2 separate regions of the Homo sapiens genome follow, and region 2 is linked to region 1. The links come from fine-mapping of genetic effects on gene expression. Tissue or cell type: whole blood. Region 1 holds a variant in brackets; the other region holds the start of a gene. All regions are shown on one strand. Distances are between the middles of the regions.

Region 1 (5,203 bases):
TCTGGAAATGCCACAAAGCAATTTTTTCCCCTAGAAATACATGTGCACAGAAAGAACCATCCAGCTTGGCGTCAAGGTTTACTATGCTTTCCACAGTTCCTGCTGTCTGGAAGGGCCATAAAGCATGGTCTCACTAGTTGAGACTAACTGGGAGTATCTGAATTGTTAAAAAATCAAAATTACCGGAACTTTAAAAAAAAAAATGCAGTTTTGTTGCTTTAAGGAAAGACAGTTCCAACACACTTTTGTGAAGACATCCTGCCAGAACGATTGTAACGATTGTAACGAATGGAAAGCAGCTCTGATGATCTCATTCATTGGCTGAATGTGAACAGCCCCTCCCCATCCTCCTACTCTGCCTTTTTCCCCCACCTAACATTTGTCAGGAACTGAAATAGTTATTGCCTCATCCACCAGAATGTAAGCTCCCGTGAGGGCATGAGATTTACTCCTCTCTTCCCTAAACCCTGAAATATTCTTTTTACTTTATTAATTTGAATATTTAAACTACAGGAAGGGGCCAAGTGCAGTGGCTCATGCCTGTCATCCCAGCACTTTGGGAGGCTGAGGCAGGTGGATCACCTGAGGTCAAGAGTTCGAGACCAGCCTGGCCCTCACGGTGAAACCCTGTCTCTATTAAAAATACAAAAATTAGCTGAGCATAGTGCCATGTGCCTGTAGTCCCAGCTACTCAGGAGGCTGAGGCAGGAGAATCACTTCAACCAGGGAGGCAGAGGTTGCAGTGAGCCGAAATTGTGCCACTACACTCCAACCTGGGTGACAGAGTAAGACTCTGTCAAAAAAAAAAAAAAAATTTACTGAAAGGGACTTTAGATAGCTACACCAATCAGATTCTAATTCTTGGGAAATCAACTTGAGAAATTCAGAGAAAATTAGGCAGTTAGTGGCAGAAGATAAGGCTGAAGAGATATGCAGGTTGGAATTATGAATTAGAATTAAGTCAACTTAATTATATATATAGTTACTAAGTCTATTAATAGCAGGGGAATAAAAATAATAATAACCAGAGCAGTTAACATTTTCTGAACACCTGATCAGTGTTCGGAATGTGTTACCCAAGCAACCGTGAGGAAGGTATTATTATTAAGCCCATTTTACAGATGAGGATATACAGAGTGATTCATTTGTCCAAATCCACACAGCTAATGGGTGGCAAGGTGGAATTTGAACCTAGGTGAGCTAGATCCAGCATCCAGGCTGTTAACCTGGTCCCAAGAAAGAATCTTTGACTCTAGGCTGCTGCAGTTCTAAAGCAGAATAGGAAGCAACTCCCCTTCCTGAGGCCCTGATATAGCTCAGTTTCCATTCTTAGATTCTTGCGAGTTGTTTTCCATATGACTTCATAGTTATTTATCTTTTTAGTAACTTCCTTTTTCATCAAATAGCTTGAATTCTTACAACCAAAAGAACCTAGTTAGAACACCTTGATTTTATACTTCTCTTGAAGCCTGTTTTATGTAATCACACATCACCCAGAAAAAAAATATCCAACTCCAAAAATGTTCATGAACAATGTAGAGTTTACTGAGCAGTTCACAAGGAGAGTTACAATGAATCCCCCACAGCAACATTTCCTTTAAAATCCCTTCAATCAATATTATCTCTCACCAAAACCCTTGCTCTAACAGCTAGCTCATCCCTTTTTTCTATCTCTTTCTCCGCCCCTCATCCTCTATAAATCGTGTAGGAAAACAAAAGACACCCAAAAGAATCCACAGCAAAGCCAGGCACGGTGGCTCATGCCTGTAATCCCAGCACTTTGGGAGACTGAGGTAGGAGGATCACTTGAGCTCAGGAGTTCAAGACCAGCCTGGGCAACAAAGTGAGACCCCCTCTAAAAAAAAAAAAAAAAAAAAGAATCCACAGCAAAACAAAAACCCAGTATATATGATTATTCCTTAGGTGTACTGCATCAATCCAGCTCTTCACAGCTGGAGAAGCTAAAGCCCAGAGTATTTAGGAGACTCGCTCAGACTTCCCTTTCAGAAAGAAAATTCATTTTCCGATCTAGTATCCTTTCAGTCACACCATGCTGCTTAACAAGCATCTTACTCATCGATAATGCAAATGGAAACTGCAGAGTAATGCAAACAGGAACTTTTCAGGAAAACAGGCTCCAGATTCACGAGTGACTTGATGAGCCCAGGGCATGAACATCTCAAGCATCTGTCAGCAAACAGCTGCTTCAGAACACTTACTCTGGCCCTCTCTTCATCTGCTGCACATACCACTGAGGCACAAATGTTGGTCTTCTGATGACATCCTTTTGAGTTTTGGAAGCTATGTTTGTCTGAATCATCCCTTTGGACAGAAAAAAAAATAAAAGCAGTGAGAATCAAGATCAGCCCTAGAAAATGACTTCTTGTTATTTTGCAGAGGCTATTTACACGGCAAATATTCAAGACTGACCTGTATGTATACGAATAGAGAAAATCCTTTGGGATGAGAATTGCTCACAGTAAAAGACTTGTATCCTTCACTGCCATTAGTAGAAGGCTCAAAGCAAAGGAG[T/A]GAATGAATATTCAGGAATTAATCTCATCTTTAAATCCAAGTTGGATGGTAAAAGAGGAGAGCTGGGGCAGCCAAATAACAAGACACCATCCTTTCAAGCTTCCCTACACCAGACATCAGTGATTACGGGTTGGAATCTGGTAGCTGTCTTGAAGGGTTCTTTTCTACATCAAGTGTGAAATATCATTTTCAATTCATGCCGTAAACCTCAGTCCAAACTGTAACCAGAGTGAACCCTTCAGAAAGTAAGTCATAATACATTGCTAGTGAGAGTGTAAAATGAAACCACCACGTTGGAAAACAGTTTGGTGGTTTCTTATACAGTTAAATATGCACTCCTATGTGATTTAGCAATCCCATTTCTGGGTATTTACCCAAGAGAAATGAAAACCTGTATCCACACAAAGATGTGCACGTGAATGCTCACAGCAGCGTTATTATGATAACCAAAAAGGAGAAATAACCTAAGTGTCCATCAGCTGGTAAACAAATAAACTATGGAATAGCCTTACAATAACTTATTACTTATTCCTCAGTGATAAAAGAGGAACAACTACTATACATGCAACAACGCGGTTGAGTCTAAAAAACATTATTCCAGAGTGAAAGAAGTCAGCCACATGCAATGTGCCTACTGCAAGCGTTTATTAATATCAAATTCTAGAACAGGTAAAACAGGGACAGAAAGCAAATCAGCAATAGCCTGTGATGGGGATAAAGTGAGGTGTATGTGGTGTTGCTGGGGAAACTGATTGCAAAGAGACATAAGGAAACTTTCGGGATTGATGGAAATGTTCTATATCCTGCTTAGGGTGGTGGTTACACGCATTTGTCAATACTCATCCAACTGCACTCTTAAAATATGAAACAAACATAAACCACACACACACACACACACACACAAAGCAAATCAGATCATGCCACAACACTGCTCAAAATCTTCCCGGGACCTCCGCCTAATAAAATATCCAAGTTTCTATCACTGCTCTCATCTCTTACAGACCATCTACCTGTTCTGTGAAACTTCAAGCTGGTCTGTACCTTCCAGCCTTAGCCTTAGTTCTTCCTCCTCCTGGAGCGCCCTCCTTCCCACAGGCAGAGGCTGGTCTATAAAAGTAAGTGCTGTCCCACTGACTCCTCCATTTTCTGGCTGCTTCCTTGCACTGTTTCATTTTCTCCACCGTTTCATTTTCTCAGTAACTGTTACCACTTTCTGAAATGGCCTGACTTGTTTACTTGACCATTGTCTCTCACCACCCTTTTGAATACAGGCTCGAAGAGCAACTTCATCACTGTATCCCAGCACCCACAACAGGAGCCAGTACACAGCTGGCACTCAGATACTAGCTTAATGCATGACAGAATACACTTGCAGTCTAGTTCAGGAATAGAAAAAGGCGGACGGGTGCAGTGGCTCACGCCTGTAATCCCAACACTTTGGGAGGCTGAGGCAGGTGGATCACGAGGTCAGGAGTTTGAGACCATCCTGGCTAACACAGTGAAACCCCATCTCTACTAAAAATACAAAAAATTAACCAGGTGTGGTAGCACACACCTGTAGTCCCAGCTACTTGGGAGGCTGAGGCAAGATAATTGCTTGAACCTGGGAGGCAGAGGTTGCAGTGAGCCGAGATTGCGCCTTTGCACTCCAGCCTGGTGACAAAGCGAGACTCTGTCTCAAAAAAAAAAAAAAAAAAAAAAAAGAAAGAAAGAAAGAAAAAGAAAAGAAAAGAAAAAGCCATCTGGAACACTAGGAACCCATAAATTGCTCTGAACTGGTTTCTATGAACCAAACAAACAGAAGTAGCTGGACAAATTGCTCTAGATTCAGGAACAAAGTCTATTGGCTCTCATCTCTCCACCACCCTTTTAAACCATAAAAACAATACAATACCACCTAAGAATTTTTTTAATTTAAGTCATTTTTAATTCTACCACCCAATAGAAGAGATTTTAATTTTTCTTTATTATCTTCCAGTCGGCCCACATGCATGCATTGCTGCAATTATCATGCACATTGATTTTTGTGTTTTTTTTAACTTTCCTATTTTAAATATAAACAAAATTTCAGAAACATAAATTTGGGGTTCTGGCTGAGCACTATGGCTCATGCCTGTAATCGAAGCATTTTGGGAGGTTGAGGTGGGAGGATCGCTTGAGCTCAGGAGTTTAAAATCAGCCTGGGCAACAAAGTGAGATCCCCATCTGTACAAAAAAATTTTTAAATTAGCTGGGCATGGTGGCATGAACCTATACTCCCAGTTAGTTGGGAGGCTGAGGTGACAGGATCGCTTGAGCCAGGGAGGTTGAGGCTGCAGTGAGCCGTGATGGCATCACCGCACTCTAGCCTGAGTGATGGCGTGGGACCCTGTCTCAAAAAAAAAAAAAAAAAAAAAAAGTGTTCTGCCTTTTTCATTTAACAACACCAAATTTTGCTCTTCCTATCTAGTTTTCATAATCAAAATCTTTAACAAGTGCCAGATACGCCACTGAAATTTAATACCCTAATTTATTTAGTCACCACTGCACTGGTACAGACTGGTCCTACTTTTAGTACTATAGGTACTGGTTTTGGTCTAGTATTCTTCGGTCACACCATGCTGCTTAACAAGCACCTTACTTTATGCCTATAGCTTTTCTCCCCCCTTCTTCTAGTGAATTATTTCCTAAG
Region 2 (5,108 bases), 49 kb after region 1:
CTGACAACCATTTTAAACCCTGGGACACAAGTCAAAGTGTTTAAGAATGGGCCAAGTGTAAAAAGTACTGTATCGAGAAAAGTAATTGAGCAGAGCACATAGTGACAGAAAGGGTGGGAGGAAAGACTGGCCATTCATTAATTCAACAAGGCGTTCATTCAGTTCATTCAGAAATTAGATGGGAAGGCAGAATCCGCCAAGAAGGGAAAGAGACTTCACAAAAAGGACTTGGTGATGACAGATTGTGAGGAGGATTAAAACCCTGCCTGGGGGAAAAGATGAGTTTGACTCCATGGACAGGACACACGCGGGAGAGGAAGGGCTTGGGATCAAGGGAAAGGCCTGGGCAGCGAATGTGGACCTGGAAGCCATCTTTTTAGATGTGCAGCTGTCCTCGAGGGAGCAAGCTCTCTTAGGGAGAAACTGGGAAGAAAATCACTCAAGAGTCTTAACCCAAACCTTGCAGCGCATCTGCATTTAGACGAAAAAAAAAAAAGGCAAACGGAAACAACAGAAGCAGTGGCCCGAGACGTGAGCCACACTGCTTCAAAGGGATTTAAGAGAGTTGTCCCAAGGCAGGCGGTCAACTGCGCGCGCCACCGTAGAGAGACCACCCGGAGGGAAGGCCCGCGGCTGCTACAACTTCAGGAACCTGGAAAAGGGCCACCCCTGCTACGCGCCAGGCATCAGAAAAGCGGTGATGAGGGGCATGGGGGTGACCGGGAAGGGAGGGACAAGCAGAGAGACCTGCGGCTCGCTCCGGCGGAGACGGACCGGGGGCCCAGGGCGGCTGGGTTACTGGCTCCGCCACGTCTAGGGAAGGAGGTAGTAGGGAGGGAAAGACTCAAGATACCAAAGACGGGAGGCTCTTTCCTTCCTTCCCAAACCTGCCTACCGCTTCTCTAGGCCCTGGCTGGCTCCAGAGCACTTTATTCTTCTGATTCGTGCGGGCGGGCGGGGAAAGGGGTGGAGGTTGAGCCTGGTCTCCTCCAGGCACTAGCATTTTAGCCATTCTCGAGAAAATGTCTGGAGGTGCCGGAAGGAAGGGAACTGCAAAGGTAGAAGCGCGGGCCCTGCAGAGGCTCCCAGAGGGGAGCAGAGAAGGGAGTGGCTGGAGGCGGAGGCTGTCAGGTGCGGGGTCCCGGCGAAGCCGTGCCCCTCCCAGAACATTGCCCGCCTGGACAGTCCACCCCGACCACGGCTGCGGACAGCGCCCCTCCCTCCGGGTGCACTCACCGCTCGGACTGCGAATAGTTGCACCGGCCCAGCAAGTTGAGTTTGCAGAGATGCAGGTTATCGCAGGGTCTCTGGCAGTACTTGCGACGGCAGACCCGGGCTCGAGTGGTGGCCACCACCGATCGGGTGATCCCGGCCTCGCCGCCGGTCTCCAACACCACAAAGCGGTCGGGCCCGGCCACCTGCAGCACCTCACAGAGCTGCGGCTCAGACAGCGCGATCTCCTGGAGCAGCGCGTCCAGGGCCATGCGGCCCCCGTGGGCGCACAGGATTTTGGTGATGAAGCAGCACACCTCCGGGTCCGCCATGGCGCGCTGGCTGTGCTGGCTCTGCCGCGGCGCGGGACTCGGTTCCGCGGAAATCGGAAATCGAAACTTACAAGTGTCCAGGGGCGGGCGCGGGCGGTGCTACTGCTGGGCGCGCCCGGAGTCAGCGAGGGCGCGCTCTCCGTCGCCGTTAGCCCAGCCCAGCGATCCACTCTCGGCTCTCAGGTCAAGAGGCTAGATCTCACCGACCGGGTCCTAGTGGCAGGTTTACAGCCGGCCGCAAGGGCAACTGGGTGGAAAGAAAGAGAACGCGCGGGCAAATCTGCTGGTGACCGCCTGGGGTGGCCCCCTCTCGGTTCTAGGCTCGGCGAGGGTGAGGTTCTCCAGCCGGGCTCCGCGAGCCTTCTTTAGAAAGAAGAGAAACTAAAAGCGATCTTGGGGCTCTGGCCGGTGTTTTATAAGCCAGCCGACTGAGGCGTGTGACGCAAGTCCTGAGAGCCCTGTTGAGGAGTGCGCACCCCACCCATTCCCGGAAAGAGCAGACCCTAGCGAGCGCTTCCTGCGAGCCGTGCGCTCTGCCTCTGTTGGTAGTGAATCTTCCCAGCAACTCCACATGGTAGATATTATTATCCTCACCCTGAACTTGAGGAAGTAACTTGCACGAACACGCACTGGCATCAAGCGGAGCCCAGATGCCACCGAGTTTCCCCAAATCGCGTCCCCAGGCCCCAGATCGTGGTACCCCAGGCCCCGATGTGCAAGTTTCTCCTCCACCACCGTGCCCTCTTAAAGAACAACGATTGCCACTCTCCCTCGTTTCTGCCTTCTCACGAACTTTTGGACAAACCACTTCTTGACATGGTCTTGCTTACCTAGAATCGCTAACTCGGTGCCCTGAACCACTGCTTGTACCTCAATCACGGTGGACATGCTAAGACATATCCCAAGATTTCAGATCGGTTCCTCCCCGTAGAGATTGGGACAAGAACTTTTCCACCGTGGGGACGTACTTTGACCCCCAGAGTTGACATAAAGATTGTTTTTAAGTGAAAACATTGAGCTACAGAAGATGTAGAAAGAAATCTTAATGAAACTTCCCTTATCTGACTAAAGCAAAACCTCCCGAAAACATGGTGCCATTAAAAGCCTCTCGGAGTATTCAGCTGCCAGGAAGACAGACTGTCCCATTACCATTAGCACCAAAAAACCCAATGGGCTGGGTGCTGTGGCTCAGCCCGTAATCCCAGCGCTTTAGGAAGCCGAGGCAGTGGGAGGATTGCTTGAACCCAGGAGTTCAAGACTAGCCTGGGCAACATAGTGAGCTCTCTTCAATAATAATAATAATAATAATAATAATAATAATAATAATAATAATAAAAACAACCCGGGCATGGTGGTGTGCAGCCGCAGTCCCAGCTACTCGGGAGCCTGAGGTGGGAGGATTGCTTGAGCACGGGAGGAGGCTGCAACGAGCCGGGATTGTGCCACTGCACTCCAGCCTGGGGGATAGCGCTGAGACTTTGTCTCAAAAACACAAAACAACCCAATCAAAACTTCCAAACTCTCCTACTGAAGCCCTAAAACTTTCCTTTTTGTTAAGTTGAGGTATATAAACCTTTACTTTTGAGTTTTCTGTTACTGGAAGCTCCTGCATGCATGTGTAAATAAACTTTGTCTTTTCTCCTATTTATCTGTCTAGTGCCAGTTAATTTTTAGGCCCCCAAAGACAGGACACAAGTTGAAGAGAAAAAAGGTTTTTTTTTCCAACATCTTCAAATAAAATAGATGGGTCATTTGATCAGATAAGAAATACATCTTTTTAAAAAATAATAGATTCTGGTTGCTAACTTAGAAATTCTTCAAAATGATTAATGAGAATTCTCCTCAGTTTTGTCATTCATGGTATATAAACCCTCTTTCAGGAATAGAGTACTTTGTTATGAAAACCAGCCAAACATGGGGGCCACATAGGATCATCTTAGGATGTCTAAGAGGGACATCTTGTTCCCTCTAGTTGCTGCTTCTATAGTTGTCTTTTAATCCACTTGGCCTTATTTGTGGTCTGACAGGTTCCCAGGGACCTTTTATTATCAAATCAACTAAGTTCTAGATGTTTATTGACTATCTTCTATGTGGTATTTACATTAGTTAGTAATGTAAGGACATGCAGAAGTTTAAAAAACAGTCCCTGCACTCAAGGAGCATGTATGCGAAGACATGAAAAAATGCATGGAAATATAAGCAAATTCATGGGTAAATGCCACAATGGGAATATAGAAGATGAGAGACTGAAGAGTCTAGTTTGGCTACAGTGGTTGGGAGTACAGACATAGAATCTCCTCCAATTTGAAGCCATGAAAAATGATTTAAGGGCCAGGTGCAGTGGCTTGTGCCTGTAATCCCAACACTTTGGGAGGCCAAGGCGGGAGGATCATGACCATCCTGGGCAACATACTGTGAGATCCACCTGGGCAACATAGCGAGACCTCATCTCCACTAAAAATAAAAATTAGCCAGACATAGTGGTATGTGCCTGTAGTCCCAACTACTTGGGAGGCTGCGGCGGGAGGATTTCTTGAGCCCGGGAGTTCAAGGTTGCAGTGAGCTACAATTGTGCCACTGCACTCCAGCAAAGGCAACAGAGGAAGATCCTTTTGGAAAGGGAAGAGAGGGAAAGGGAAAGGGAAACGGAAATGGAAAGTGACAGAGAAAGGGAAAGGGAAAGTGAAAATGAAAGAGAAAGGGAAATGGAAAGGGAAAGGGAGGGAAAGGAAAGAAAGGAAGGGAAAGGAAAGGAAGAGAAAGGAAAGGAAGGAAGGGAAAGGAAAGAAGGGAAAGGAAAGGGGAAAAGGAAGGAAAAGGAAAAAAAGGAAGGAAAAGGAAAAGGGGAAAAAAGAAGGGAAAGTGAAAGGAAAAAAGAAAGGGAAAGTGAAAGAGAAAGGTGATTTAAGGAGTTCTGGGAAGGGAAAAGGAGACATTTTGAAAAATTTTGAAATATGTGCCATCAGAGATTGGGTTCTCCAGGAAGGAGATCCTGACATGGAGTTAAGAGTGCAGAACTTTCTCTGCACTTTTTCTGGGGCATAATGCCAGAAAAAGTCAAAGGAAAAAGCATGATTGATCCATGGGGCCTATCAGACTTTTGTGCGGACCTAACAAAGTCTCTGCCAGCCCAATGAGGAGCTCTGGAGTAGGAGTCCAGCTTTGGACAGAAAAGGCTAGGCCCTTGTACTGCCTTGCTCAGTCACCGGTGGGGGCCACCAGAGAAGTGGATGACTTCAGCTCGAATGCTGGGGCAGATCTTGAAAGAGCTAAAGCTGGAGGATATTGGCTAAACATGCTCCTCAAAGCTGGGCTGCAAGCTTGACCTGAGTGCCACCCTGTGTCAGCTGTAGTCCACCCTTTGTACTACATGGCTTTCTTTATCCATTTGTATTTAGGGAACAGGCTTTTCAGGGTCACTCTTCCTACAAGGAAGCTTACCAGAGAGAAATTAGTGGAATGAACTATAGTCCTTGTCACTGCAGTTGGTCTCAAGGCCACAGCTGGTGGTCTGGTCCTCATCATATCCCTCTACCACTATCCATTCCAATCCCTCTCACCCTT

Evidence for each region. PIP is the estimated chance that this variant, and not a neighbour inherited with it, causes the effect.
Region 2: it holds the start of ZC3HAV1, and the variant in region 1 is fine-mapped to the expression of ZC3HAV1 in whole blood (TOPMed, PIP above 0.99).

What each region holds. Positions count from the first base shown.
Region 1 is chr7:139,058,817-139,064,019 of GRCh38, forward strand. ZC3HAV1 (zinc finger CCCH-type containing, antiviral 1) reads right to left here. Exons shown (of 13, transcript NM_020119.4): 9 at 2,220-2,322. Among named protein-coding and RNA genes, the nearest start is that of MIR10399, 17 kb to the left of the region's middle. The variant T/A (reference allele first, on the strand shown) is at 2,533.
Region 2 is chr7:139,107,788-139,112,895 of GRCh38, forward strand. ZC3HAV1 (zinc finger CCCH-type containing, antiviral 1) reads right to left here and starts at 1,933. Exons shown (of 13, transcript NM_020119.4): 1 at 1,237-1,933. The coding sequence starts at 1,544. RefSeq lists enhancers at 832-961, 1,542-1,641, 1,586-2,089, 1,882-2,041.